Regions from separate parts of the Homo sapiens genome. Here region 2 is linked to region 1. The links come from fine-mapping of genetic effects on gene expression. A gene starts in region 1. The other region holds a variant in brackets. All regions are shown on one strand. Distances are from middle to middle. Region 1 holds the start of HES6 (hes family bHLH transcription factor 6). Region 2 overlaps ERFE (erythroferrone).

Region 1 (14,322 bases):
AGAAAGGAATTAGGCCCCACCTTTTGAGGAAGGAGTGGCAAAGAGTGTGGACACGTTTCAAAATCATTGCGTCACCTTTTCTTTGGCCTGCTGTGAATGTCCAGTTGAAAATCACAGATGTCCTCTATATACCCTATGCCTCTGGAGCCCTTCTTAGTTATTGTCTCTCTCTGCTACTAGAGTGCCAGCTCCTGGGACAGGGATTTTGGCCTTTGCTGCCAGCCACCTCCTGGCTGACACCTGGTCACCTGCACCTTACTCAGTTTGAATGACTTTTTATCTTTTGAGACAGAGTCTCACTCTGTCGCCCAGGCTGGAGCACAGTAGCGTGATCTCCGCTCACTGCAAGCTCTGCCTCCAGGGTTCAAGCGATTCTTCTGCCTCAGCCTCCCAAGTAGCTGGGACTACAGGTGCCTGCCACCACGCCCAGCTAATTTTTTGTATTATTAGTAGAGATGGGATTTCACCGTGTTAGCCAGGAAGGTCTCGATCTCCTGACGTCGTGATCTGCCCGCCTCGGCCTCCCAAAGTGCTGGGATTACAGGCGTGAGCCACCGCGCCCGGCCAATTTGAATGACTTTTGTAACAACTCAGATCTCAAGTTTGTTACTGATTTCTCTTTTTTTTTCTTTTAAGGAATGTGTTTACTGTGAAAACAAGGAAAAAGGTAATATTTGCATACCATATGAGGAAGATATTCCTTCTCTGGGACTCAGCGAAGTGTCGGACACCAAAGAAGACGAAAATGGATCCCCCTTGAATCACAGGATCGAAGAGCAGACGTAACCCCTGCCCCACCTCAGCCCGGCAGCCAGCGAGGTACACCAGGTGGTGCTTGGAAGAGATGAAAGATCTTCATGGCTGTTTCCACTGAAATGGACACATATGCTCATGTTGCTTTTTTTGTTTTAGAAAAAAAAACAACATAGTTTTCTGAAGGGGCGACTTAAAACTGTGGAGAGTGGGGAGAGTTCGGAAAGAAATATGTTTTTATATATAAAATATATATGTGGAGTTTTGTGGGATGGGGAAGAGATTTTAGTTGTTATTTAACTTGAGAAAGACTAAGCGCCTCTTAGTGTCAGGGAAGTTGCCTCAGTGCTCCCAGAAGTCCTGTGACTGTGACGAGACCTCTGTCTGCTGCACCAGCTGGGGACTCTGGCTTCCAGAGCTTTCCCAGGGTGTTTGGATCAGATCAAATTTTGTCCTCTCTTGGGGACTGCTTTTTATCTGAATTATCATTTAGTCAAGGTAGAGTGTTTTTTTATACATACCAAATGGAGATAGCAGCCTCTCCTAGTTTTATTTCAAAACGTTTCACATTAAATGGTGTGAAGCGTTGTTTGGCAAACCAACAGCTTTGGCTTCTGGTGTGGTCAATATTTCAGTCTGACATAGGTTTTGTTTGTAGTGAACAAAGTTGAAACATTTGCTCTGGACTAAAGAAGCCTAGTGGTTTGTGTGGCCAACTCCATCGGATGAATGCACACGCAGACAGACCCTCTGTATATTTCTGCATTATTCTTGTCTCCTTTTCAGACCATGATGGCCAATATGGAGATTAAAATATGTCATCAGTCATCTCTTTATGGTGACTTCCCTTTGCAAACCAGGCTGTGACCAACACATGTGAGACCCAGTCCTGTTTGGTTTTCTTCCGTTGGAACCACCCAGACATCTGCTTCCACCCAGCCAAGCCCACATCACATCTCCTGGCCGAGAGCAGCCACTGCCACTCAGTCTGACAGCTTGCGACTGCATCTGTATTTTCAGGGGTGCAGTGAGCTCACCTCTCCCACTGCACCCTGGGTTGGGTGCACAGCCCTCATTCTTTTCATGAGCCCGACCTCTCTCGGAGCAGCTTCAGGCCTCTGCCAGTGTCCCCAGCACTTTTAGGTCATTTGGACACTTGGGGAAAAGTGAGGCCAGTCTGCCCGGCTTTTTACAAAACCTCATGTTGCATTGTATATTCCAAAGATGGTTCAGAAAATTTAATATTGGTCCCTGGTGGAAATTCAAAGTTATCACTGAAGAACAGTTGACTTAAAATTGGACCAAGACTATGAGGCTTAAAAGGGACCAGGGTTTTCTTTTTTTTTTTTTTTTTTTTTTTTTTTTAGATGGAGTTTCTTTTTGCCCAGGCTGGAGTGCAGTGGCGCCATCTTGGCTCACTGCAACCTCTGCCTCCCAGGTTCAAGCGATTCTCCTGCCTCAGCCTCCTGAGTAGCTGGGACCACAGGCGACTGCCACCACACCCAGCTAATTTTTTGTATTTTTAGTAGAGACAGGGTTTCACCATGTTGGCCAGGCTGGTCTCGAACTCCTGACCTCAAGCGATCCACCCACCTCGGCCTCCCAAAGTGCTGGGATTACAGGCGTGAGCCACCACGCCCAACTGGGACCAGGGTTTTCTGTTTTTTGATGGAGGTGAAATCTCTTTGTAATCCACTAGGTTTTCATCGTAAAACCATCTTATGCCTGACTATTAAACCTATTCTTCATAAACACAAGAACACTTTAATTTTTCGTTAATTTACAAAGTAACATCAGCTGCCTATGCCTATGATAAGGTAGCAGTCTGCATTCTTATGGCCATTAGATGTTACAAACTCCTTGCCTCTAAAGTCAGATCATGAAGGGATAGGTGTTCATCTAAGGTTACAGTTATGTTACCGAAACACAAAACTGCCAAAATCTTACTCTGCTGTTATGAATGTTTACCATCAGCATTATTTTATCATTTAATATGTGCTCACTGATTGTTAACTGTAGCTTCAGCGCGTGCCAAGCAGTTGACTTAATAGGATCATCTTGTGAATTTGTTTACGTGATGCCAAGCATCAAGTCATGTTTTCTTTAGTGTGTGTGCTTACACAGGTGTTAAACAGTTTTTCTCTATTTTAAACTGAGCCTTCTTTTTAATATATTCCCGAAGAGATATGTAAATAAGCTCTCAGAGTTTCTGTGATGATTTGTTGAGCCTTGCTGGACAAGTGGTTTGTTTGTGTGCAAACCAAACTTTCTTTACCCAGTGCAATAGATTTGTTTGACTGCTTGTGTCTTTTTATGACCTGTTTGCCTTTTAGAAAATTGGTAAATAAAGCAAGTATATTTTTATTTTTACTTGTATGTATTTTTCACATAGCACAAAGGAAAACCTGAATAGAGAGCAAAGATTATTTAAAAAAAATTTTTTTAAAGAACTCCAGGAATTCTGCATTAAAGAATCTTACATCCCAAAGGCCTCCTGGCGGTCAGCTCCCTTATAGCGTTTGCTTCTTGCTGGCTCCCTTTCTTCCTGTGCGTGTCACACACACACCCTCCTTCAGGCTGCAGGAGTGAACTCACGTAATGCAAACCTAATCGTGTCATGCCCCACAGTCTTTTCACTTTTAGTTGGAGGGGTGCAGCTGTCTGGCTCAGCCCCAGAGTGCCCCCAGCTCTGCCTCCACGCACCTCTGTCTTCCCTGCATCCCTGCCCTGGGTTACCTGGCCTTTCCAGGCTGGCTGCCTGTCTTCTGGTCATCGGGCTAGGTAGGGCTAAAGGTGGGGCGGTCAGGAGGCTCCACCAGGAAGGTCACATGTCTCCATTGCGAATGATATGGGCAGGGCGGCATAGTCCCCTGACCCCAGCCCTTCTTTCACAGTGATGAATGAAGCCTTGTGAGGCCAAAACTGTGGAAGCCCGAAGAGTTGCTCCCCATCCCTCCCACTCTTCAAACCATGACCCTGGGGGTGGGAGCAGAGAGCTGAATGGATCCTGAACCCAATGCCCAGCCTCTGAGAAGCTCCCTGAGCAGAAGGGAGGGGCTCTCCTCTGCCTGCTAGCCTGGCTGCCTAACGCCAAGTGCTGATGGGATAAAAGGCAAAGTCCTCCCTAGCGAGCACAGAGGCCTCTGCAAACTGCTCTAAATGGCCAGATATGGTTGTTTCACTGAACCTGAGTGCTTTTGGAAGACTCTTAATTGTATTTTTATTTACCATATAACCCCAAGGGATTTATTTCCAAACCAAACGGAGATTCTCTGAGTCTCCTGGGCAGATTGCCCACAAGGGGCCTGGACAGTCTACAGGCCGCAGCTGCCTTTGTTCCCCCAGGGATTTATGGCCTGCCACCCCCACTGCTAACTGGTATCCCCGCAGCAACCACCACCCTGCCCAGCCTCTGCTGGCCTCTGTTCCTGGCTCTAGGGGGATCAAAGGACTCAAATGCTCAGGAAGTCCATACTCAGGCAAACTTTGAAGGCAGGACTGGCCCAAGGGACAAATGGCAGGAAGTGTTGGCTAGGGGAGGCTGCTGTGAAGGAGGGAGGGAGGGCTTGGTGACCTCAAGATAGGCCAGGCTTCTGGGACAAAAAGGCCATGCCAGCTGGCCAGTGCACCGCTAAAGGGAATTGAAGCTGACCTTGCAGAGGGGACCTTGGGCAACTTCCAGTCCAACCAAGAAGGATTTTGCTGATGTACAGCCTTCTCTACTTAAGCTCTTTTCCCTGTAGGATCCTTGGTCACACCGAGGCATATCCCAGTGCTTAATTTCTCCCTCCCTCAACTCTAGACAGCATTCCTCAACCCTCCACCCACTCCACTGTCAGACAAGGCTTTTGAGGTCCCTAGTCCTCCCTTTAGCCTCCTCTCTCATAACTCCTATCACCTGTCCTTTTGTTTTTACAAGGTCAACTTTATATCATGTCCCATAACCATAAACAATCCTTCCTTGCCTTCTGTATAGATTAATTCTAAATGTTAAAACCCTATGAACACTGTTACATTGTTGTGACTGTGAAAATTGTCTCCTGAGCCAAGTAATGTGCTAAGATTACATTTCTTGGGAAGCTTTTTGTTTTTCCTAGAGTTCCTAGTTGCTTTTCTTTCTTTTTTTTTGCTTGCACCATTTGCCTTTATCATGTCCTCCTTGCCCCTCAAATCCAGTTCCCCATCCAATCAAGTGTTCAGTCAGGCTTTACCCAAAGTCCTCTTTTGGGGCCCTGATCATCCTGTTGCAATATAAATTGCCTAACATAAAGCAGATGTTTTAGGATGAGAGCATCCTAAAACATCTACTTGGCCTTGTTCGTTTGGATAATGAGAGGAGTGTAAATCAGTTTGCAAACTTGGGAGTACAGGAAATATCAGTGAGTTTATTTTTCCCTATCACAGTTTCTCGAAGTAGTGGAAATGTCATTGTAGCCACTTGGGGGAGTGGAGGTTCTCCTTCCCTGGGGTGATGTCTAAGTGGTGAAGGAGAGTAAAGTCACAGGCTAATAATCCACTTCCTTGGGATCCACCACTCCAGCCCCACCCTGCCAGCCCCACTACTGGGCAGGTGGGGAGTGTGTGAAGTAAAGCGGTAGTTTCACACCCAGGTGAGTGATGCTGGGCTGGGGGAAGTCTCAGGACCCTGCTCATAGAGCAACCAAGAGCCAGAGCAGGGACAGTTGGGAGCCAGCGGGAGGGGGTCCCAGGTAATTACAGAGGTCAGTGAGGTGACTTTGGGAGCTTTCAAACCTCTCACCAAACTCACCCAGCAGGAAGCCTGCAGGGGTCCCTCTGGTGGAGAGGCGCAAGTAAAGGGGCCATGGGAGGCCTGTCAGACCTCTCTAGGGGCAGTGGGGCGGTCGGTCTGCAGCCTAGTCCTGCCGCTCCGCTCAGCTGCTGCGGTCCCGTGATGTTCCCCTCCCACGCGGCCTTCCAGCCCATCCTGCCAGGGCCACCCCTCACCTTCCCTACCTACCAGCGCTTCTGTGAGGCCAGGCTCTGCTGGGGGTGCGGGGAGGTGGACAGGGGGTCCTAGGTCAGACTGTGCCCTTGTCCAGGGACGCTTATAGCCTGGAGGGGCTCAGAACAGACCCTGACGATCCCAGCCCGGGTGAGTAGTGGGGACTGAGGAAGGCAGGTGCTGTGCGGGGCAGGCTGGTAGTCGGCCGGCTGGGGTCCGAGAAGGCGTCTCCCGTTCCGGCTCCTCCACACAGCGTCTGGACTGACGCCGGGGCAGGAGCCGGGCAGGGGTCCCCAGGACGCTGCCCGAGGGCGCGGCCCCACCGCCCACGCACCCCGCCCGCGGCCAAGAGGAACCCAGCAGATGGGCGGCCCGCCGCGATGGGGGAGTCGCGGGCGTCTGGCCGGGACAAGCGCCCGCCGCCTGCCCGCCGGACAAAGGGTGCGAGACAAAGGCGCGGCCAACACCTGTCGCTCTTGGCGCGGCCGCCGCTTTTCTCGCTTTTCTCCGCCGAAGCGGCCGCAGCTGCCAACTGTCACGGGCATCAAGTTACAGGACCAGACGGCAGCTTCGGCGGGCCTGGGAGGCGGGGCGCGGAGGACGAGGAGGGGAGGAGGGAGGCGGGCGGGGGGCAGTGGAAGGGAGGGAGGGGGCCCCGGGGGCCAAAGGGGACTAGAGGGAGATGGGGGAGCTCAGAGGGGGGCGGGGCTGGTGACCCGCAGAGCCCAGGGGGAGAGCGGCGCGGGCGGGAGCACCCGGGACCCCGCCCCACTAGGACTCCAGTGCTGGCGGAGGGCGGCGTCGGGGGTCCGGCCCGGCGTCTGGACGAGTCCGGAAGAAACTCAGGGGCCGCCCCGCCACCGCTGCCCAATGGACCCTGCCTCCCCGGGGCTTGGCAGCCACCCCAGCCGGGACCTGAAACCCCTCTAGGTCCAGAGACCGCGGACTTGACTGTGGCTCTGCACACCAGGGACGCATCTCCTGGGGCCAGTGGCCCCAGCGCTCAACTCTGGAGGCGCCATCGGCGAAGGAGGGAAATGAATGAATTAATGGGTGAATGAATGAGTGGACGGACGGACGGACGGACGGGTGGACGCCTGCTCGCACGCGCGGCAGATCAGTGGTCCTAGAGCAGCAGACGGAGAGAAACAAGCGCGGGCAGGGCCGCAGCTACCCGGGGTCGCCGCCCCGGTGCCGCCCCCGCGGGGGTCTAGGGAAGGCCGGGCTGGGGGCCCCGCCTAGCTCAGCCAGCTGCCCGACCGCCAGAGCCGCTGGGCCGGACAAAGCGCGCTGCCCCGATTGGCTGCAGCGCGCCTCGCGGTCGGCCGCCCCGGGCCCGCGCGGCCAATCGGCGCATTGAGATGCAAATAAGCGGCTATAAAAGGGGCGGGACCGCGGCGGGCCGGAAGCCGCGAGGAGCGCGGACGGCTGGGCTGCTGCTGGGCGGCCGCGGGGCAGCGGAGGGCGCCGGCACTCCGGTCCCCGCCGCTCCCCGTCCCCGCTGCTCCTAGCCCCTGCCGCGTCCCCGGCGGAGCGGGCATGGCGCCACCCGCGGCGCCTGGCCGGGACCGTGTGGGCCGTGAGGATGAGGACGGCTGGGAGACGCGAGGGGACCGCAAGGTGCGGGCCGGGGCCATGGGCGAGCAAGCGGGCGGGAGGCCGTGCGGGGCTGGGATTCAGTGCCCCGCTCCCCGCAGGCCCGGAAGCCCCTGGTGGAGAAGAAGCGGCGCGCGCGGATCAACGAGAGCCTGCAGGAGCTGCGGCTGCTGCTGGCGGGCGCCGAGGTGCGGCGGCCGGGCAGGCGCCGTGGGGCTGCGGGGCGGGCGGGCGGGTCCGGGAGCGCGCTGCCGGCTCACCGCCCTTCCCGCCCGCGCAGGTGCAGGCCAAGCTGGAGAACGCCGAAGTGCTGGAGCTGACGGTGCGGCGGGTCCAGGGTGTGCTGCGGGGCCGGGCGCGCGGTGAGTGGCGGCGGGGCGGGCGGGGGCGCCGGCCGCGGGCGCCTGTAACCCCTGCCAGACGGAGGACTTCCCTCCCGGCGCCCCTGTCCTGTCGGCGGCGAGGGCTCCCACCGGAGCAGGGTGCGCCCCCGCGTCTCCTGGGTGAGCCGCGTCCCCGCGGGCCGGGTGGGCTGGGCCACGCAGTCGCCGCTCACCGCGCGGGACGCGGCTCTCTCCCTCCCACCCTCGGGCCCAGAGCGCGAGCAGCTGCAGGCGGAAGCGAGCGAGCGCTTCGCTGCCGGCTACATCCAGTGCATGCACGAGGTGCACACGTTCGTGTCCACGTGCCAGGCCATCGACGCTACCGTCGCTGCCGAGCTCCTGAACCATCTGCTCGAGTCCATGCCGCTGCGTGAGGGCAGCAGCTTCCAGGATCTGCTGGGGGACGCCCTGGCGGGGCCACCTAGAGCCCCTGGACGGAGTGGCTGGCCTGCGGGGGGCGCTCCGGGATCCCCAATACCCAGCCCCCCGGGTCCTGGGGACGACCTGTGCTCCGACCTGGAGGAGGCCCCTGAGGCTGAACTGAGTCAGGCTCCTGCTGAGGGGCCCGACTTGGTGCCCGCAGCCCTGGGCAGCCTGACCACAGCCCAAATTGCCCGGAGTGTCTGGAGGCCTTGGTGACCAATGCCAGCCAGAGTCCTGCGGGGGTGGGCCCGGCCCTCCCTGGATCTCCTCCCTCCTCCCAGGGGTTCAGATGTGGTGGGGTAGGGCCCTGGAAGTCTCCCAGGTCTTCCCTCCCTCCTCTGATGGATGGCTTGCAGGGCAGCCCCTGGTAACCAGCCCAGTCAGGCCCCAGCCCCGTTTCTTAAGAAACTTTTAGGGACCCTGCAGCTCTGGAGTGGGTGGAGGGAGGGAGCTACGGGCAGGAGGAAGAATTTTGTAGAGCTGCCAGCGCTCTCCCAGGTTCACCCACCCAGGCTTCACCAGCCCTGTGCGGGCTCTGGGGGCAGAGGTGGCAGAAATGGTGCTGGGCACTAGTGTTCCAGGCAGCCCTGGGCTAAACAAAAGCTTGAACTTGCCACTTCAGCGGGGAGATGAGAGGCAGGTGCACTGAGCTGCACTGCCCAGAGCTGTGATGCTCTGTACATCTTGTTTGTAGCACACTTGAGTTTGTGTATTCCATTGACATCAAATGTGACAATTTTACTAAATAAAGAATTTTGGAGTTAGTTACCCTTGAAGTATTGTTGAGTGATGTGTCATTACTGTGTCAAGATATGTAAATGCTAAACTAAGCACATTTCCCCTGCATCTGAGGCTGGTGAATGTCCTTTAAAACCTCACCCTTTCTCAGCAGAGTGAGCAGTGTGATGGTGGTGGGGATGCACTCCGTGGCTGTCTCTGCAGCAGGCAGTGCTTCTGCCCCCCATGCTAGGCAGGTCCTCAGACCCAGCCTGTTCTTGGGCATTGTGTGTCCTGGAGAAGGAGTTTGTTTGCATGAGGCTTGTCTCCAGGGTAACTCAGCAATAGGGAGATGACCTGTCTCTGTGCCATTTTCTTGTTCATGAGCTTCAGGAATAATAAAATAATGCCTAATTGCTACCTATTTGGTTTGAAAGTATCTTTTAAAGACCTGTTTTAGGACCCACGAGCATGACATAGACATGAGTCTACTTGTGTGAGGTTGTTGCTTATCTTGACTGAAGAAGGAACTTCCCCACTGCTGCCATTGACTTCAGGGTCAAGGAGACCCACCCAGTTTGTGGCCTGAAATGAAAGCGCCAAGGCCCCAGGGGGCTTGAGCGTTAGGTCAAACTGGGTCCAGGAGGTCAGAACCCTCAGGGATGGAGGGTGGCAGGATGGGCAGCTGGGGTGCGGGAGCCTGCCCTCTTGGGCTCGGCCAGACCTGCAGATAGCACGTGGTCAGCCGGCTGAAGTCACCGCCACAGTTAGCCTAGCCCCCTCCTCCTGCTCCAGGACCCCAAAGCAGCAGCTTCTCACTGTGGGTTGGCAGTCCCCAGGCTAGGGCCAAGGTGTGACAACTTAGGATTGACGTCGGGGTCTCCTCTCTGGACATGTGCTTTTGCCTTAAGAACACCTTTCCCAGCAGCCCCTTTACAAAAGCCCCCAAGCAGGTCCTGGCCACCAGGGGTGTTTCAAAGTTTGAGGTTCACTCTGGCTCACCTCAATTCAATCATAGAAGCCATTGGGCTATAACCAGATGCAGCTTTATCATCTGGAGCCGAGCTATTGGGGCAGTGGGGGAGCCAGTGCCACAGAAGAAGTCTTGAGCAATGGAAATATCATTCCTGGGATTATTTTAATGTCCTCAGACAGGCTGATGTAGGATGTACCCACCAGGACACGGATGGATAACGGGCCATCCTGAAAGCCCTGGTTTCCAGTAGCACCCAGAGGCCATGCCAATGAGCTCTCATGCCATTCAGGGAGCATCAGCCATGGACTGCTTCAAAGGAACAACTTTCACCTCTCAAGTCCACTCATCACACCTTCCCAGATGCCCTAGGAGGGGGTCAAGGGGAAGCCCAGGAGGCAAGGTGCAGGAGGCTGACCTGGAGTAAAAGCGTTGCTAGGACCAGAGTCAGAAGCCACTAACCCAGAACTCTGGCCCTGTGCCCCTCCAGCCCTAAAGTCAGCTTCACAGTAATCCTCAAGTGCAGCTTCTTTTGGAAATGTAACTGGCTCCCACACCAGTGACCACTGTTGGCCTCCTGGGGCTGAGAGCTGCTCTTGCCTGCGGTGCAGCCTGGGGCCACCAGCTTCCCAGCCAGCTGGTTGTTTCACACCAGCTCCTCTCCCAGCACCCCCAGGCTCCCCACAAGCCCTTCTCTGAGGGCTGTCTCCTTCCCACCCGGATCCCTTCTCTAAGGGCTGTCTCCTTCCCACCCGGATCCCTTCTCTGAGGGCTGTCTCCTTCCCACCCGGATCCCTGACCCACTGTATTACTTTTCTATGGCTGCCAAAACCAACGACCACACTCTTGGTGGCTTCAAACACACGATTATTGTCTTGCAGTTCCACGGGTTAGAAGTCTGTCAGGATTCACTGGGCTAAGATCAAGGTGTTGGCAGGCAGGGCTGTGTGCCTTCTCCTGCCTCTTCATTCAGGGGCCACCCACATTCCTTGGAGGATGGTCCCTTCCTCCATCCTCAGAGTTCCTCGGAAGCATTGCGTCTCTCTGACCCTTCTTCCTTGGTCACGTCTCCTCCTTACTTCTACTTTTAAAGATCCTTGTGATGACACCAGCCCCCTGGAGAATCCAGGATAATCTCCCTGTATGAAGGTCTTTAGCTTAATTCTTAATCACATTTGCAAACTCCCTTTTGCCATGTAAAGTAGCATATTCGCAGGTTCTGGGAACTAGGATGTGGTCATGAAGGACATTCTCTGTGACACCTGCCTGCACCCTGGCCCAGGCGTTCTGCCTTCCATCATGAAGCAGTGTGGCGCCCGCTTCCGACATGGGCATGGGCCCCCATCCCTGCTCACCTGCTCAGGGACTCTGCTCTCCACTGCACCATTAGCTTCTCCTCCCTTCTGGATCATTCTCATTAACCTACAAACGGGCTGTAATATGAATACCTTTACTCGGAAGAACCTCCCTGGATGTGACATACTGTTAGCCTCTGTCTCAATGCTCTAAAGCAAAATTCCTTGAAAGCGTCATCTACACTTACTGCCTCCACTTCCACGCATCCCATTCCTCTTCATTCCTTTCCAATCAAGCTATTGTCCACCCTTCCACTGGAACTGCACAGTCAAAATCTCTAGTAACGAGCATGTTTCCCAACCCAGTGGGCATGTCCGCATGTCAGCTTCACTTCTCGTGGGTTATGACTCATCCATCTGGAGGCTCCTTCTCCAGTCTCAAGGGCACCACACCAGCCTTCTTTCTACCTCATCGGCCATCCTCAGTCCCCTGTACTCAATGCTCCTCCCTGCCGACCTCCAACTGGACGTGTTCTTCCCAAGGCTCTGTCCTCAGCCTTCCCTGCCGCCCTCCAACTGGACGTGTTCTTCCCAAGGCTCTGTCCTCAGCCTTCCCTGCCGCCCCCACACCCAGTGACACCATCTGGCCCGTTTTGCCAATCCCATGCCCTTGATTCAAAGCCCCTCTCCAGGCGGCTGGCTCCTCTGTATCCTCCTGTCCACTCAGTGACTGCACTTAGATGTCAGATGGGCTCACACCACCACCAAAACAACAGATCCTCAGGCATTACCACTTCTTGGTACCCCATGGATTGAGCAAAAAAATCTAGATGTCACCCTCAAGTTCACCCTCTTCCTGCCATCCCACGTCCTATCAGTCAAGCCCATGAGCACTACTTCTTCTTCTTTTTTATTTTTATTTATTAATTTATTATTATTATTATTATTTTGAGACGGAGTCTCACTCTGTCGCCCAGGCTGGAGTGCAGTGGGGGAGATCTAGGCTCACTGCAACCTCCGCCTCCTGGGTTCAAGCAATTCTCCTGCCTCAGCCTCCCAAGTAGCTGGGACTACAGGCGCCAGCCACCACGCTCGGCTAATTTTTTCTATTTTTAGTAGAGACGGGGTTTCACCGTGTTAGCCAGGATGGTCTCGATCGCCTGACCTCGTGATCTGCCCGCCTAGGCCTCCCAAAGTGCTGGGATTACAGGCGTGAGCCACCAAGCCCGGCGGAGCTCTACTTCTAAGCCCTGCCTCCACGTGTCGTCTTCTTTGCCACCGACCGAGTCCAAGGCAGCCTCGTTTCTAACCTGGGCCTCCGCAGCAGGCCTCTGACTCCCCTCCCACTCCAGTCCTGACCGTGACCTTCAAGACTCTACCCGGTTCAGCACCGCCGCCCCCCGGGGCTCCTCCCTTCCAGCCCTCCCTACGCTCTGCTCAGGCCTCTGCAAGTGACCCGAGAGCCAGGACCCGGACGGTCTCGATCAGCCAGTCGCCCAGCCCTTGAGCCCTTCCGGGACTGCCCGGAGCCGGCGCTGGGGAATACCGAGTCCCTTGGAGCCGGGTTCGGGGGGCGCCGTGAGCTGGGAGGCGCTCGGAGGAGCCGAGGCCTTGACCACGCCCCCTCCAGCCCCGCCCCGCCAGAGGCGAGCCGCGGGGCCTCCTGGGAGATGTAGTTCCGACCCCTTTACTTAGATTTTTGGTTTTTTTTTTTTAAATCAGTTTTATTTAAGAATTTCCAACAATGACAACTCTTATAAAAAGCATCCAAGCACAGGACACAGAACTGCAGCAAACAGCATTCTTATGGGTAGCTAACAGACATTAGAACTTCTACCCTTCTTTGAGACACCAGAGTTCACTGCTGAACTCTGCTTCCAAGTCCTCCTGCAAAGCACACCACAAGCTCAGTCCATGTTCTCAGCCCATCAGCTTCAGTTCACATTGCCACACTTACATATCAGTAACAGAAGAGAACACACACCATACAGCATTCACAGCAGTTGACAAAGGGGTAGGGGGAGTACAAGTATCATTTCACTTAACACATTCAAATAAAGTGGGTTATCTAAGAACAAAAACTCAAAGTCTTCCAACAGATGTGGATGTCCTTTGAATGCAAAAAACATTCGTACATTATTTGCTATCATTGCTGTCTGCACACTGTCACCAAAGCCGCAGGATTGAGAAACACATCTCGCCAAGTTAAAAAATATCCGTTATGCACCACCAAGTCTCTGCACGTGCTCTCTCCTTTTCTCACTCATACTAGCCTTTCATGCCTCAGCACCACCGTCAATCCCACACAAGGTTTCAAAAGTTCAAACAGCCTTCTAGTTCCATATCACAGCCTTGCGTTCACAGCGTTGATACGACTCTATGAAATAAAGAGTAGCAGATAAAAATGGGACACCCACCGTCAAAGACGCGGCCTGTGATGCGTGATGACGAATTCTTGAATGAGAAGGCATGTAGACAGAAGTGTTCCTATGGCAGAATATTTACAGCACTACTTTCAACCAAGTGCTTCTTCCATAAACATTTGAAATGAGATGAACTGCAGAGATTAAATGAAGGCTTCATATTGTACTTTTGTGTTTGAGGGGAGACAAGTGTTAAAAAACAAAACAAAAGAACCAAACTGTGACACCATGATCTTCTAAAAGGAGATTTTCTTAAGGAAAAAAATCCATATGGTGGGGTTCAAATTAAAACAAGGAATAAAGAATGTAGTTCTAATTCATGGCTTCCATTTTGAACATGCAAAGAACTCACTTGACAAGTCCAGGGATAAAATATTACAGGAGAAACCTTCTGATATCAATTGTAGTGTGTTGGTTTACCAATCAGGCAAACAGCAGTTCACTTTCAACCACTCAATATTTCAACCTTTCATGTAACAAAACTTATAAAATTCCTTTAGCTGTTCCTTTTTCTAAAGAAAAATGTCAAAAATACTACTGAATATACTCCACACTGAAGAAACCAATTTTGAAAATTCTTAGTACATATGTATTTTACAATATACTTACCATGAGTTTAGAAAAATTTGAATTCCAACCATTCTATACCAACCAACCACAACCCCACTGTCTACGTTCCCAGCCAGAAGACTTAGAATCCATGCTTGAGCCAAAGCCGCCATTAAAACCACTGCCCGACCCTGCATTGGATGCTGATCCCCAACCAATTGTTGCACCAAAATTAGAACCACTACAA
Region 2 (15,794 bases), 72 kb after region 1:
AGATCATGCCACTGCACTCCAGCCTGGGCAATAGAGTGAGACTCTGTCTCAAAAAAAAAAAAAAAAGCCACTACTTGCTAAGCATTGTAATTATGAGGGTGGGGGGGAAACTGAGGGAAGGGGAAAGAGAATGAACTTTGGGCAGTTTGTTTGAACTTTGAAAACTGGGCAACGGGGAGAACCTGCTGTGAAACAGACAGCTTTCTATTGTGTCTAGAGTAGCGCAGACTTTCTAAGAAATGGATGTGGATAGAGTATGTATTGGTGGCATGCGCCTGTAGTCCCAGCCACTTGGAGGCTGAGGCAGGAGGATCATTTGAGTCCAGGAGCTTGAAGCTATAATGCGCCACCATGTCTGTGAATAGCCACTGCACTCCAGTCTGGGCAACATAGCAGGACCTTTTCTCTTAAAAACAAAAAAGAGTTCCGGTGAAATGGATAAAGCAGACTGGGAAGGACGAAGCCTGTGGGGCTGGTGGGGCTGAGTCCCAACCAGCTTCATCAGTGGTGATCCTTTTGAACTTGTACCAAAGTTTCCAGAACAGAGGTGGCATGGATTTACCCTTGTGTGATGCTCGATCTCAGAGATGGGACTCTGTGATTGGCCTTTGTTGAACTGACAGGTATTTGAATGTGCACATCCTACGTAGGACATCGCATTGAGTGTAGGCATAGTGCCAGGGCAGCTTGCCTCATCGTTACCAAACGCGTTTCCTGGGATCTGTCATTCTGTCCATTGTGCTTTCTCCTGTTACTCTAGCAGTTCAGTGAATGTAAGATTACTACTCTGTATATGGAACTTTGAAAACAAGAATGAGGCCACATTACGCCTGTAATCTCAGCACTTTGGGAGGCTGAGGTGGGAGGACTGCTTGAGGCTAATTGTTTAAGGACCAGCCTGGGCAACACCCCATCTGTACAAAAAAAATTTTTTTTTTATTTACCTGGACTTGGTGACACCTGTAGTTCTAGCTACTCAGGAGGCTGAGGTGGGAGGATCACTTGAGCCCAGCGAGTGATTGCACCACTGCCCTCCAGCCTGGGCAACAGAGGGAGACCCTGTCTCTTAAAAAAAAAAAGAGAGAATGAGAGATGGCAGTTCCTGTGCTGCTCATATTGTCCTTCTTTAGACTTAGAGATTGTTTCACATTGTCTGTACTGTGTTGTGCAGTACCAGAAGTTGCTGGTAGCTACTTGGTCTTCTGGGACCTGCCATTGCAGACGTGGTGATTGTAATCTTAATCTTGTTGAAACAGGATGGATTTATGACTGGGATGGCCGGAAGCCACACCAGACACCCAGTCACCTGGTCATGGGAGAGGTACTTTGTTGGCTTTTCATAGTACTTACACTGTGAGCTGCTTCCTGAAGTGGCACTCTTAAGGCCAGGTGCCCCCACCCATCTTCAGTCCTCAGCTCTTCCCCTGTGCACTGTTTCCTCTTGCTATTTAACAGTTTGTATCCTAGAAGATCGCTAGGCTTTTTGCAGATACCAGCAGAAGTCTTTGAAGAAGAAAAAACATGTTTGTTACGGATACTGACCTGTGAGCCACTGAGAGGGTAACTGGGGCCCAGAGAAGGGCCAGGCTGAATTCTGCCTTTAGGACAGCAGCCCAGGAAGCATTTCCTACCATGTGCAGCCATCTGCACCGCATCTCCTGAACTTGCTTGGTCCATGATTTGGGAGCCCCGTGGTGATCTTAAACGCCCATGCGCAGCCGTGGCATTTGCGGAGTGCTCTCTCACACGTTGAGTATGGTTCTCTGCCTTGCCTTTACAAACAAGGGCCTGAAGGGGAGAGAGCTTGCAGCTGCCTAAGGTGACAGTGCTGCAGCCTAGACCAGAATTGTTCTTTGGGGCAGTAGGCTTCCCCAAATGGTTTTTCCTTGGCAATAGGACTGTCCCTTAGATGTCTCTTCCCATTTGTAGATCACTGCCCCATCTCCTCCATATCCCCTCACCTAAAATAGAATGGGTGAAACTATGATGCTATGCAGGATACTGTCATTTACATTAACATTAAACCGTACCTGTACTTGATGCAAAGGACATGTGCTCCACAATCCAGGAATAGCCACTTTCAGGGATTTTCCAAATCTAATTAGATTGAAATGCAAAATATCCCTCTGTTCTAGCTATTGTTAACCCTGGCTGCATGTGGGAAACACTCAAGGAGCTTTAAGATACAAAACACTGCCAGGCTCCCTTACCCAGTCAGTCAAATCCGATTCTGGAGTTGGGACCTAGGTGTGTGATGAGAACTGCTGAGTCCTGTCGAAGGTTAAGCTGGGCAGCACTGCTTGGCAGCCACTGGAGGTGCTGTTCCCACCCATGTGCAGCTGGGCAGGGTCCCTACCCCAGGGCAGCAGTTAATGGCCTAGACACCCCTGCATATTTGAGATCAAGAAATGTCAGTAGTGGTTAATAATGTGAATTCCACAGTCTGTATCTTTCACACTTCCATTCTCTGCTTTTAAGGTGAGATTCTAAGTACTGTGGACCCATAATCTGTCAGGTAGAGTCTGAAATGTTTTTCCTCTCATTTTAGGGATGGGCGTGTTTTGGGCGTGCTAGAGGTGTCACGCTCCATTGGGGACGGGCAGTACAAGCGCTGCGGTGTCACCTCTGTGCCCGACATCAGACGCTGCCAGCTGACCCCCAATGACAGGTAAAAGGCCCTATAAGAGGCACAGGTGTGTGTGCATGTGGGTTTATTTCTCTTCCTCACTTCCAGTTTCTATCAAGCCTTTGTTGGAGGGAAGGTGTGCATGGTGCTAGGCCCTGGGGGTGCAGAGATAAACAAAATGTGGTTTCTGCTCTGGTGGGGTCCACAGTGGTAGGGGGGGACACATGGGGATGGGCAGCTGCAGTCCAGTGTGTCCTAGGCATGTGCTGTGTGCTGGGGTCTTTGGCAGTAGGGGAAGGGGTTATCCCTGTCAGAGAGAGGAGAAGGGGCTTCCTGGCAGAGGGAACACACAGTAAGGCATTAAAATGTGACAGTGTGAAAGCATGGCCAGACAGGCGCTTGAGGGACGGAGGGAGTGGTGGGAAAGTGATAGCAGGGTACTTTGGGGGCAGATCCTGAAGGGCCGGCCCTCAGCCCCATGCTGGAGAGTTTGAACTTTAGTTGATCATTGGTGGAGAATCATAGGTTTTTACACAGAGCCAGGATCGGTTGAGAAAGAGACAGTTCACCTGTTCATCTCCTGTTCTCCATGCCTAAGGGTACGGCACCGTGCTGGCTGAGGGCAGGGCCTCAACAGGTGATGGTTAAAGATGGCATTATGGGGCTAGGGAGGCCTGTGAGCAGCGGTGCAGCAGCCCTGGCCTGATGATGAAGGGCTGAACTAAGGCAGTAGCAGGAGGGGTCAAGGAAAGCTCCCGGAAGCAGGATTCACAGCACTGAGTTGATGAGGGGAGGCCAGAGACACTAGTGGCACTGTGGCGAGTGGGCCTCCGAGTGCTGCTCTGAGTCCCGCCCCAGTGCTGCGGATGAAGAGCGCGTGCCTTGCTTTGGCACTCGCCTGCTTGGCCTTGTCTTGAGCCACTGCCCCATTCTCCACATCTTCTTCAGTGTGTTTGTCATGTTCTCACGTACCGCGGGGTCCTCCATCATCTCTCCAGCAGCCGCCGCCTCTGGTGTTCTGAAGGATGCACCTTCTGCTTTGCTTCCTAGCTCGCCTTCCTGGGTTGTAGTCATGGGTCTGTGTGATTGGTTATTGAGGGTCTGAGTCTCAGGACACTGGAAGGGGTGGGAGCCTGCCAGGACTAGGCCCCACGGTGTTCTCAGCATGGACGATAGGCTCGGCAAGTAGCGGCCGAGTGAAAGCCTAGTTAAACGAGGAAAACAGGCTGGGTGTGGTGGCTCACGCCTGTAATCCCAACACTTTGGGAGGCGGAGGCAGGTGGATCACCTGTGGTCAGGAGTTTGAGGCCAGCCTGGCCAACATGGCAAAACCTCATCTCTACCAAAAATACAAAAATTAGCCAGGCGTGGTGGTGGGCGCCTGTAATCCCAGCTACTCAGGAGGCTGAGGCAGGAGAATCACTTGAACCTGGGAGGCGGAGGTTACAGTGAGCGAGATCATGCCATTGCTCTCCAGCCTGGGCAACAAGAGGGAAAGTCCGCCTCAACAACAACAGCAGCAGCAGCAACAAAAAACAAAGAAAAAAAAACACAAAAAAACCCCACAGATATTACAGTGAGAAAAGGAGGGTGGCTTATACCGCAAAGCTGTGGGGATGCGTATTCCCCACCCCCAATGCCAGGAAAACTAGAACTGTCACATTGAATCCATTGGTGTTCAGAAAGATTCCAGGGACGGTCTAGGGGGGTTTGATTCTGAAAGGGAGAGCATGTGGTTTTCAAACACAGGAACACGCACAGCTGCCCCTTCTTGGGCCTCGGTCTTGGATGCAGCCCCAAGCTGTGCAGTGTGTGCCCAAGGATGTTTCACCGAGGCTGGGCTCATTCTCAGCTTTATGTCTGGAAGTGGTGTAAGGCCTATGGTGTTATAAATTCTTGTATATTTACCATAACACCCATGTTTTTATTCAGTGATTTTTCTGGAGTTTGCCTAAGAAAGTACAGCACCTAATGTTTGAGGTAATTAATAATTCTGTTAATTGGCGAAGAGAAGGATAGTCTCAGTTTTGATGTATAACATCCTATCCACAAATACTTGTAAGTAGTTTAAACCTTTGTCTCAGAAATTAAGTGGGTTTAAACAAATCTTAGCCTGGCCAGGCGCTGTGGCTCATGCCTGTAATCCCAGCACTTTGGGAGGCTGAGGCAGGTGAATCACCTGAGGTTAGGAGTTTGAGACCAGCCTGGCCAACGTGGTGAAACCCTGTCTCTACTAAAAATACAAAAAATTACCCGGGCGTGGTGCCGGGCACCTGTAATCCCAGCTACTCAGGAGGCTGAGGCAGGAGAACAGCTTAAACTGGGAAGGTGGAGGTTGCAGTGAGCCAAGATTGCGTCATTGCACTCCAGCCTGGGCAACAAGAGTGAAACTCCATCTCAAAAAAAAAAAAAAAAGAAAAAAGAAAAAAAAAACCTTAGCCTTTGAATAGTTGGACAAATATTTATTTTATCTCCATCTCCAGGCCCTTTTTTTATTTTTTATTTTTTGGTTGGGCCTAAAACCCGTTTATATTTCTCCCTGGTGTTGTAGGTTCATTTTGTTGGCCTGTGATGGGCTCTTCAAGGTCTTTACCCCAGAAGAAGCCGTGAACTTCATCTTGTCCTGTCTCGAGGTGAGAAATCTCACACGGGGGTGGTGGTTGTCCCAATTGTGTCTTAGTTTTCAGAGAAGTAGAAGTTCTGAGACCCCATTTCCTCCCATTGTGGGACAGCCCTTGTGCCCTTTTTCAGTGTGAACTCTGCCTACTGACTCACTGGTCAGTTTGTCCTGCCAGCCCTGATGGAGACCAGAGCAGCTCTTCTTCCTGGCAGTCATGTCTCAGGAAAGTGACAGGGTGCGGGGTCACTCCATTCACTCATTCCCTTTCTCATCTGGTAGGATGAAAAGATCCAGACCCGGGAAGGGAAGTCCGCAGCCGACGCCCGCTACGAAGCAGCCTGCAACAGGCTGGCCAACAAGGCGGTGCAGCGGGGCTCGGCCGACAACGTCACTGTGATGGTGGTGCGGATAGGGCACTGAGGGGTGGCGCGCGGCCAGGAGCACGCATGGTATTGACTTAAAAGGTTCATTTTGTGTGTGTGCACATTGTGTGTTTTGTGTACTCCTGTGGGACTCCCATGGTTGTAAATAAAGGTTTCTCTTTTTTTTTCCTAGTCTTTTGAGTTATTATACTGTGAGCACCTCTTGACCCTTCAGAGATTGTGTTTGCTTTTGAATATGCTGTCTTTCCTTGTTAAAACCATTATAGGCATCTTGGACTGGCTCGTAGTGGCCTGCAGGCTGCTGGTTGTGTGATGTTTTGTAGTTCACGGGCATTTTGCTGTGCTTTCACTGTCATGATGACCCTGGTTGGGGAAGTGGCATGTTGCAATGAAGAGACCCAGGGGATGACTGGTTAGTCAAGGCTAGGCCCAGACCAGGGCTTTGGGAACCCTCTAGCTCTTTTCAGTTTTCCCTATGGAAATAGTGTTGCAAAATGTTACATAGCATGAGCTCAGGCTTAGCCAGGAAATAGACTCATAGACAAGGTTACTCATGCATCAGACCTGCCAGAAACAGTACAGAATTAGCCATTCTCATTCCATTGGTGAGAGCTGCAGTCTGGTGGAAGGAGTCTGTGGAGGACTCGGTTCAGTGGCTTCCATCTGGACTCCCTGGGTGTAGGTGTGCACCTTCCTGTTGGAGCAGGCAGCCGGCTGCTCAGCATGGCCCGGAAATTCTGCTTCCCACGTGAGGTAGGTGTGGGGAGTTGGCCCTGTGCTGGAATGAGGTTAATCTTTGCAATAACACCTCAAAGGGGGACACTTCTGTTAAAGATGTTAAAAGCATGAAAAGAGTGCATGAAGAATAATAAGCTCAGAAGAATAAGCTTTAAAATACTTTTCAAGCACTTGTTTATATAGAAAACGTCATCATTATGACTGTAAGTAGTTTTTAGTAAAGCAGCTCTTGGATCCTTTTGTGTAAATGTTTGGCTCAGGATGATGTAAGATTCTAAAAATTTGCGTTTTCAGAATCTGTTTTGTAATGTTCCCTGGCCCCCACCCAACACACACAC[A/G]TGGTTTTATCACCCAGTTGATTGAGTGGAATTGGTATCCATGCTGCGAGGACCTCAGTGGTAAAGGCTTCATGTAAACCTTAGATGCCTCCTGGGGGTCTGTTGTGTAAAAGCCACAAGTAAGAACTGAACGAAGTGTTGGTGCTGCCCCTTCCTTCCCCAGGGAGTTTTAAGAGCCAAGTACCCATTTCAGTTTGAGGACTGGGACATTGTACAGTGTGGCCTCATTGAAGAAAAGAGCCCTGGCACCCCAGAATCAGGAAATAGAACCATTCATTTGGTAACTATCTTCCTATAGCAAACCAGGTGTTTGCACACTGATGTCTGTGACTCATACATCCCTATGTCCCACTGTTCCCGAGAGGCTTGACCCTAGTTTCCCAGGAAGGTTCACTCCCAGCCTTCAAGGGAGTCCCTCCCACGTAGAGGCTGGAGGCCATCTCCACTTCACCTTCCAGGTTCCTCCTTACTGTGCTTAGTTTAGTGAACCTGGGCTAAAGGATTGATTCCGGATCTTAAGGTCTGCCTTTTGTTTTGTAACTGTTGTGTCACATAGTTCTTAAGTAAGTACTTGAACCACCCCACGAAGTCAGTTATATAAATATATTCCACTTGGCAGTATTTATTAGACAATAAATACTTTAATAAATTGCTGCATAACACACTGAGAAAAATGAAAGAGATGTGGATATGTGGCTTTTACAAGAGTGAAAGATAAGTTCTCTAGAATATCTGTGCCCAGTGGATACAAAGTGAAATCTAGATAAGGGCGTGGCCACATCACCCCCTTATCAAAACACACGGATGCAGTACCCAGGCCAGCCCAGTACTTCTAGGTAGGGTGGGTGTGAGTCCTACTGAGAATCGCACCAGGCCTTTCCCAGGGCAGAGTGTTTGGTTTTTGTGTGTTACTGCACTTGGGGATGGAGATGTTTGATTCGATGTTGGGGTTTGGAAGCTGGGCTCCTGGGGATCATTCGGGCCTGGTGGCAGCCACCTCATCCGGAGGCTAGTTAGTTAGAAGGTGAAGGTGACTGGCCATTGCTCCCTTCTCTCCCAGGCCTGAGCGCCCTTGCCAGACCAGCTTGGCTCCCAGGAGGTCCTGAGGCACCAGGTTCTTCGTAGCCTGTTGTGTGGGGAGGCAGTGGGTTAACTCTTCCTCAGCAGGTAGGAGGCCCTGGAGGTCGCTGCCGAGGGCCTTGTCCTCTTCACTACCTACTCTGGGACAGTCCTGTACTTTGGGGAAAATGTGGGAGGCTACATTTGAGGAGGCTGCGGGCTCACAGCCTGTGTGTCCTCATGAGAGCTGCCGTCCCCATCCCCAGGCCCCATCACTGCCACAGGAGCACAGCAGGCTTGGGACCAGCCCTCCCAAGACCACCCTTTCTCGGGACCATCTCTCGTCCACCACCTGTCCAATGTCAGCGCCGCATGGCCACCCAAGTGGGAAAGATGCTTGGGAGGCTCATCCCAGAGCCGCTGGACCCAGCCAGGCCCTGGCACCCCTGGTGGAAGACTCTGCTTCAGCTATTCGGATGATGGGTCAGCAGGCCCGGCTGTCTCCAATCTGTAAAGACGTTCTAGATCTTTCCTCTGGTGGGTGGCTCCTACCAGTGAGTCAGCACCTCAGAGGGGAGGGGAAAAGGGATCTCATCCACCTCTGGAGAGGGTGGAAGGGGCCTTGGCTGTGAAGATTTGCAGAGGAGGGGAAGAGTGGAGCTCCCATTTGGAAAGGCCTTCTGAGGTGAATTTGTGAGTTAATCTTGCACACATTAGAACTAGAAGCTGGGCCCAGACTTACTGTCCCCCAAAGGCCCTTGTCCAGTGCCCCTCTGGCCCAGGCTAGGCAGTGCTCAGCTCCACTGGCAGGTAGAACACGGTTAGGGGAGGGGCAGGGAAGACCAAGGAGCCCAGATGGAGACCAGGGGAGTGGTGAGTGACCCCGTCCCTTCTAAGCAGTAAGAACACACAGCGTACGTCCCTGTGGCAGCCCCCTCAGCCCTGCGTCAGCTGACCCTCTCCCAGGTAGGGGCCCTGGCTGGTGCACTTTGCACTCCATGAGAACATGAAGAGAGGTGGAAAAGGTGGGGCTGGGCACAGGAAAGACGCAGAGGCCATCTGGGCAGGTGCTGAGCAGGCCAGGAAAGAGTCGGCCTGCAGCTGGAGACTAGCAGGTGCCCCCAGGCACGCCGACTCTTTCTTTCCTGGATAAGAGCCCAAGATGGTGTCCTGAATCAACCCTGGCTCCGGGACCACCAGCGTGCGTGTCACGTCCGTAGGCCTGCCTGCAGTGGCTCTGTGGGCTGAACTGCAGTGGCCAGTGTGGGCAGAGTTCCGGGTGGGCCTCCTCCTCCATGTGGCCACTGCTACTCTGACACTGTCCACACATTGTCTAGATCTGTGCTCCATTTGCCCCTGAGAGGAAGGGCCTGTGGTGGCCGCTCACACGCCCAGGAGGACAGCACTGAAGTGGGAGCCACTGCGCACTGTGAGGGAGCAGCCGCTGGCGTTGTCCAAGAACACGGAGGTCCACTGCCCCATCTGCAAGGAGGGTGCCTTTGAGGCACTGGGCCACCCCAACAGCCTGCAGAGGTGACCCAAGGGCCAGCCAGCCACACTCCCTCCTGCCCACTCAGCCCCGCTTTTGGGAAGGGCTCAGGCCCAGAGAAGAATGTGGCCGCCAAGGTCACAGAGCAAGGGCCCGCACGGGTTGGGCCCCACCCAGCACCTCTTCTGCTTTCCCTGCAGCGCCCTACAGTTCGCGTGTGTGGGAGTGGGCCCCTGCTCAAGGCCAGAGTGGGATTCAAGAGTCCAACAGGTTTCTCAGCTGCAGGGCTTCTCAGAGCCTGCAAGGGCTCCAAGTCAGGTGGGAGGGTGGCCCTTCCCCACAGGCAGTCATTTGGCAGAGCCTTCCGTGAAACCAGCACTCTAGCCTGGCTGCTCCAAACGTGGTCATGCACCAGCAGCGTGGTCATGCACCAGCAGTGTCACATTCCCTGGGAACTCCCAGAAATGCAGAATCTGGGATCCACCCAGACCTGCCTCAGGATCTGCATCTTAAGATCCAGGTGGGGCAGAGACCATCTGAGTTCACCAAGCATGCTGTGTGGCACCCAGAAGGGACCTCTAAATGCCTTTCAGCAAGCACAGACTCTGGGCCAGACAGCCTGGCCTCCATTTCTGGCTCTGCTGTGTGAACTTGGGCTAACTCGGGGAGTAGCTCTACCTTCTCCAAAGCTCTGGGAGAATTCAATAGCAGCTGTTATTCCACACACCTGCACTCAATTGTTTTCTTTGTTAGTAAATTCCACCTTTATGTCCATTTCTCTACCACTTGCCAAAATTCCCACAGTGCCAGAGATGGTCACTTAGGGTTTTGGGTAGGAAAATAACGTATCTGGCTTCCCATAGTCACAGGGGACTCAGGGCGTCAGCCTGGGCAGAGTGCTGGCCTCCATTCCCTCCCTGCACCAGTCCCTTCAGCGGGCTTGTGGTGGCCAGGAGTACTGGGCCTCAGGATGAGGTGCTCAGGGAGTCTGAATATTGGGAATGCAGAGCGGAGCAGCTGCTCAAGCGGGCAGGTGCCCTCGGGGAAGGGCTGTGTTTGGAGGAAGGAGATCAGGACTTGAAGCCTGGCTGCGCCCAGACCAAAGTGAGAACTTGGCATGTCCTGGACCCTCTCCCAGGCCTGGAGTCTGAGGGTGCTGCACCCGACCCAGTGATCCTGAGCATCTAACAGCACCCTTCTGCACCCAGCCACCCGTGGCCATGCCCAGGCGGTGCCCCTCGATGCCCAAGCCTGCCGCACTCACCTGCAGGTACAGGACGCCATTCACAGAGATGGTGAAGAGCTCACTGCTGCTCTCCAGGCCCATGATGGCCTCCAGGGAGCTGTACCCAAAACAGAGGGAGGGTCAGCCTGCCCCATGAGACCCCACCAACTTCACCTACGACACACAATCCTGCCAGCAGCCAACACATGCCCAGCAAAGTGCCTGACCCTGGCCAGGTCTTCCAGTGGAGGTGGTGTCTGAACCGAGTCCCCAAGAGGAGGAAGGACACAGGGCCAGAGGCATGCTTGCTGTATTGGGAAAGGCAAGGCGAGGGCCCAGCAAGAGGCAGCAAAGCCCTGGCTCTGATGGGAAACAGGACACTGGCTGATGCAGCCGGAAGTGGGGATGTGGTGGCAGGTGATGCTAAGTTAGTTCAGGCCAACACACTCTGGGGGTTCAAAGGCAGACTAAGAAGTTTTGGACTTGATCCATTCATTCAAGTCTGCTCCAGCTATCCTACCCGCAGGGTATCTCCGCTGTACCTGGGCTCCCTTCTGGGTGTGGGGAGACAGGGAGCTCACAGTCACTGCACTCGTGGGCCAGATGGTGCAGGAGCAAGGGATGCGATCATGGGGAAGAAAGTTCCCGGGTGAGGAGTGGGAGGGCGACTGAGGAGGGGGCCTCCAGAAAGCTGTCTGGAGAGGCCTCTTGAAGTAACACTGGTGCTTCGAGCCCCAAGATGAAAGTCCCTGAGGTGGGAAGGAGTTGGGAGGCTAGGAGGAGCCCGGCCTCCTAGGACCTGGGGAGGAGGTGAAGGTCTGGGCAGGGAGTGGCCTGGAAAGGTTTTTTTTTGTTGTTGTTGTTTGTTTTTTTGAGACGGAGTCTCGCTCTGTTGCCCAGGCTGGAGTGCAGTGGCGCTATCTCTGCTCACTGCAAGCTCCGCCTCCCGGGTTCACGCCATTCTCCTGCCTCAGCCTCCCAAGTAGCTGGGATTACAGGCACCCACCACGCCCGGGTAATTTTTTGTATTTTTAGTAGAGACGGGGTTTCACCATGTTAGCCAGGATGGTCTCGATCTCCTGACCTCGTGATCCGCCCGCCTCGGCCTCCCAAAGTGCTGCGATTACAGGCGTGAGCCACCGCGCCCAGCTGGAAAGGTCATTTTTAACAGCTCCCAGTTGCTGTGAAGGGAAGGCCTGATAGGGGCAGAAGTAGACCGGGAGACCTGGAAGAAGGTGTGGGGTCACCTAGGCCACGGTGGGGTGTGAACGGGCGGAAGCCCCGTCCAGTGCCTGTTTAACCACCTCCAGCTTGTGGAGGCCGAGCGAATGCGGGTGTGGGGTCCGGGCCGGGGTACACTCACGCGTTGCGCTGGCACCGGGACTGGATGCAGATGAGCAGGCGCAGGTGGTCCCGGGGGCGCGGCGGCCCCCTCCTCGGCGGCTCCCCGAGCGCTGCGGGGGAGGGTGGGACGTGGTCAAGCGGGCGGGCGGCGGGGTGGGCGACAGAGCGGGCGATCCTCCCACGCCCCGGGCCTCACCCACGTGCAGCGTGGCGGCGAGAGCGTAGAAGCCAGCCACGGGCGCCCTGTACTGGCCGCTGGTCAAGTTCAGGCCCGGGCCGCGGCGGAAGGCACCCTCGGCGTCGGGCTGCGAGGGGCACGGATGGTCACCCCGGCTCCCGCCCGGCCGGACTCACCCGCCCTCCCGCGCGCCGGCACTCACCAGGTAGTAGACGCCAAGCTCGTGCAGCGCGCGCCGCTCCACCAACGCGTCCCGGCGCAGGCGGCAGAGGAAAGCGGCCTCCACGCGCGGCGCCCGCGGCCCCGGGGCCAGGGGCGCGGCCAGCAGTGCCAGCACGTCCCCCACCACGTCGTCGTCGTCCTCCCCGGCGGTGGCCGAGACCGGGGCGAGGCTCGCAGCGACCGGCCCGGCGGGGCCACACGTACAGGGTTCGGGCTCCGCGCGCTCCCGCTGCCGCACCGCACCTGGCACAGAGCGAGCGGTGGCCGCGCGCCAGGGACCCCTCACCCGCCCGCCGCGTGGGTCCAGCCCTGAACGACAGGTGCTAGCGAGACCAGGGGCCTGCCGGGCGCAGGGGTGGGGCGAGGGCGACGTCCCCTCGGCCTGAAGGGCCTCGGAGTCTTTGCGTCCTGACCCTGCAGCGGCTCCCGTTTCCCTCAAGATTTGGGAAGCTCGGGCAGAAGTGCCCCAGCGCCCTTGGCCTCCAGCCTCACCTCTACCCCACCCACATTTTCCAAAGACGCTGGGGGTAAAATAAGCGATTGCAGCTTTACTGGAAGTACAAGGAGGTTCTTCAGCGCAGAAGGTGCTATATTTAAACGAACAGGACATTGAACTAAAAGGAAAAAACGGCTCAATTCTAATGACTAATGTGAGCCGCCGCTCTGCAGGAGGCCTCAGTGTGGACTCCGCGGCTCCACTCAGCCCTGCCTCCTCCAGGGCAGGCTGCCCCAGCCCTGGCCAGTGGTGACTGTGGGTGCCAGGCTGAGCTCCACCTGGTGCTGCCCCATACACTAGCCTCTGCCTTTCGCTGGGCTCTCCTGACTTCCAGGCAGGGCATAGGCGCTGGTCCCTGAGCACCCGCCATACTGAGTGGCCAGGTCCACCTTCCTCTGTGAAGCCTTCTCCTGGCCATGGTTCCCAACCCCCAGCCATCCCCAGCCCTGACCCTTGGCAGACATGGGCCAAGATGGGGCAGAGACTGGACCTGGCCAGCTCTACTGTCCTTGAGTCCAGCCCAGAGCAGGTGCCTCCTTGGGTGCCCGCCGAAGTGTTGAGGTTGGCCCTGTCAGCTCCTCGGGACACCCTCCCAGGCCCTGCTCACAGCGGGGTGTGTGTGTCCCAGCCGGTGCACACCCCTACCTTTCAGCAGCAGCTGGAACTCCTTCAGCAGCGCCTCGGGTGGGATGATGGGGCCTGGGGGGCCCTGGGGACCGGGAGGCCCAGGGGGCCCTGGCAAGCCGAACTGAAAGGGAACCTTGGCAGTGAGGACATGTGAGGAGCAGGCTGGGAGCCACAGCATCCCCTGTGCAAGCTCTTGCCACTAAGAGGCAGGCAACAGAGCTCCCCAGTGGGCTCCAACCTCCAGCCAAGGATCTACCTCAGTGAAAGCTTCTCCTGGAGTGAGTACAAGGACTGTGCTGGAGGTGGGGGCCCTCGGGGCGGGGCTTTGGCAGGGAAGGACTCTGCTCTGAGTGGGGAGGCAGAGGGCTGAAGCCCGCTCCTGCGGCCAGGCCTCGTGGAGGGAAGAAGACTCTAGGCTGCTTTTGGGGACTTGCATCTCAGGGTCTGCACTGGGCCCGAGTCCACCATCAGCAGGTCCCCACTAGGCTGGGTTGGGACCCGAACCAGAAGCCAGTGAGCCCCCTGTGGGGAGAAGCTTAGGGCAGGGCCAGGAGGCTGGGCAGAGGTAGAAGGCCAGGCCACGAGGACAGCGCGGCCTGTGCACCTGCCTCATGCACTCCGAGCTGGCCTTCCATCGTGTGTTCAGATCCCAGGCAGGTGATACTGGCCCCCAGGGGACAGAGAAGCCCACACCCCGTATTTTCCATTTTGGGGGCTCCAAGCAGGAGGCAGCACCAGGACCAAGCACCAAGTTTCTGCCCAGGCCAAGACCTAAGGCTGAGTGAGGGTGAGAGGGACCCTGTGCCCCTAGTCCCTGGGAGCCAGGCACTCCTGCAGGCCCCTCCAGTGTGGACAAGGTTCTCACCACAGCCTGGGCTAGCCCAGCCTCCCTGGCCTGGATGCAGAGGGAGGAGAAAAGAGGGAGAGCCTGGCATTTTAGGGGTGTGGGGAAATGGTTGGGACCAGGCCCCTAACTCGGGGCTCCCCCTGGGGCTGCCTGGGTTCTCTCTGTTCTCTGTCCCCAGGCCGAGGCGTGAGGGGTGTGCTATTGGAAATGTTCAGGATGTAGGAGTGGGAGTGGATGAGGAGCGAGGAGGCGGAACCCCCCACGGCCTGGCACTGACGGGATGCCGGCCTCACCTTCAGCTTCTTGGCCTTGCCCCTGCTCCTCTTCTTGCCATTGACACCCTTGTCACTCTGCCTGACGAAGAGCATCCAGGCGTCCCGGGGGTCGACGCTGTGTGCACGCTCAGCGGTGGGCTCCTGGAACACAGCCAGCCCAGCAGGGCGGTTGGCCTCACTGGGCTCCTACCAAGCAGGTGGGACACTTTGCAGGAGGTGACTGTGTGGCCTTCTGTACTCTGGGACCCTGGTCCTTGTCACCTGTGGTGCCCTCAAAGGCAGCTCCCAAAGGGGCCCCAACCCCTCACAGCTTCTCCCCCGGCCCGTGGAGGATGACTCCTAGGGAACGGGCCACACCTCGGCCTGGACTTGGCACTCATGGGAGAGGCAGACCCAAGATGCCTGGAGGGAAAATGGGGTGCAGGGCTTGGATATCGGGGTGAATCCCCGTACTGCTGGGCCTCCTTCCTCCAGAGGAGCTGCAGTGATCACACCGTCCTCCAGTCACCAGGAGGATCCGACCACTGGAGCACCCATAGGTGCTCAGGAAGAAGCAACTGTGATTATCAGGGAGCCCAACTACTAGCCAACCCTCCTCTGTCCATCCTCCCCCAGTGTCAGAAGTTCTAAGGAGGCAAATTCAGCTCTCACAGCTGCCTCGGGTTACAGTCCAGTGGGGGAGAGGACCAGGCGAGCTGTCATGACGCGAGGCCTCTGTGTGAGACTTTCATTTCCTCAGCACTTCTGAGACACTGACACATGGACAGTGATGCTTCCGGAAGTTCCCATTCCTGTCCGCGCTGCATCCTGACTGATGCTGACACTGAGCACAGTTTTGGGAGGGACCTTCCTGGGAGAGGCCTTGGGCTATCTGGGCTCCAGGCAAGGCTGCCAGCTGGGAAGGAAACCGGCCCAAGAGGGCTTAGATGAGGTCATGGGTGCTGACGCTGGGGGCTGACGGAAGGACCCTGGGATTTTAGAGCTGACTGGGCCCTTTTATCAGAGACAAAGCCGGCTGCCAAGTCACTGCCTTTGGTTCCTGGCTGATCTGGGGGGATGCAGGGCCTTCTTTTGGGAGCTGGCTGACCAATGCGCAGGCCAGGGTGTTGTGGTGGGAAGATGGGGGCTGCGGTGCCGAGGAGCCTGTGGTTGGGCGGAGAAAGGGTTCAGGGGCCCAGGGCCCTCAGCGCTGCTCAGTGCTTCCTTGTGCCTTAGAGGGTCAACTGCACCACCTGCTGGCTGATCTCCCCTCTACCCCCTCCCAGGACCCTCTTCCACTTCCTGTGTGCCCTCCGTGGAAACATGGGGCGAGGATGCCGCACACCGG

What was found. PIP is the estimated chance that this variant, and not a neighbour inherited with it, causes the effect.
Region 2: its variant is fine-mapped to the expression of HES6 in whole blood (TOPMed, PIP above 0.99).

What each region holds. Positions count from the first base shown.
Region 1 is chr2:238,232,839-238,247,160 of GRCh38, reverse strand. It overlaps HES6 (hes family bHLH transcription factor 6), which reads left to right and starts at 7,123. Exons shown (of 4, transcript NM_018645.6): 1 at 7,123-7,336; 2 at 7,414-7,500; 3 at 7,593-7,674; 4 at 7,910-8,894. The coding sequence starts at 7,256. The coding sequence ends at 8,334. It overlaps PER2 (period circadian regulator 2), which reads left to right. Exons shown (of 23, transcript NM_022817.3): 23 at 637-3,117. The coding sequence ends at 786. It also overlaps the pseudogene TARDBPP3. RefSeq lists enhancers at 1-1,013, 5,212-5,717, 5,718-6,223, 8,124-8,692, 12,418-12,919 and silencers at 6,881-7,400, 12,348-12,437, 12,588-12,717.
Region 2 is chr2:238,160,408-238,176,201 of GRCh38, reverse strand. ERFE (erythroferrone) reads right to left here. Exons shown (of 8, transcript NM_001291832.2): 2 at 14,486-14,608; 3 at 13,364-13,466; 4 at 12,203-12,465; 5 at 12,019-12,127; 6 at 11,842-11,932; 7 at 10,518-10,596; 8 at 7,312-9,246. The coding sequence ends at 9,148. It overlaps ILKAP (ILK associated serine/threonine phosphatase), which reads left to right. Exons shown (of 12, transcript NM_030768.3): 10 at 2,549-2,668; 11 at 5,178-5,259; 12 at 5,526-5,800. The coding sequence ends at 5,666. Among named protein-coding and RNA genes, the nearest start is that of ERFE, 9.3 kb to the right of the region's middle. RefSeq lists an enhancer at 12,544-13,044. The variant A/G (reference allele first, on the strand shown) is at 6,706.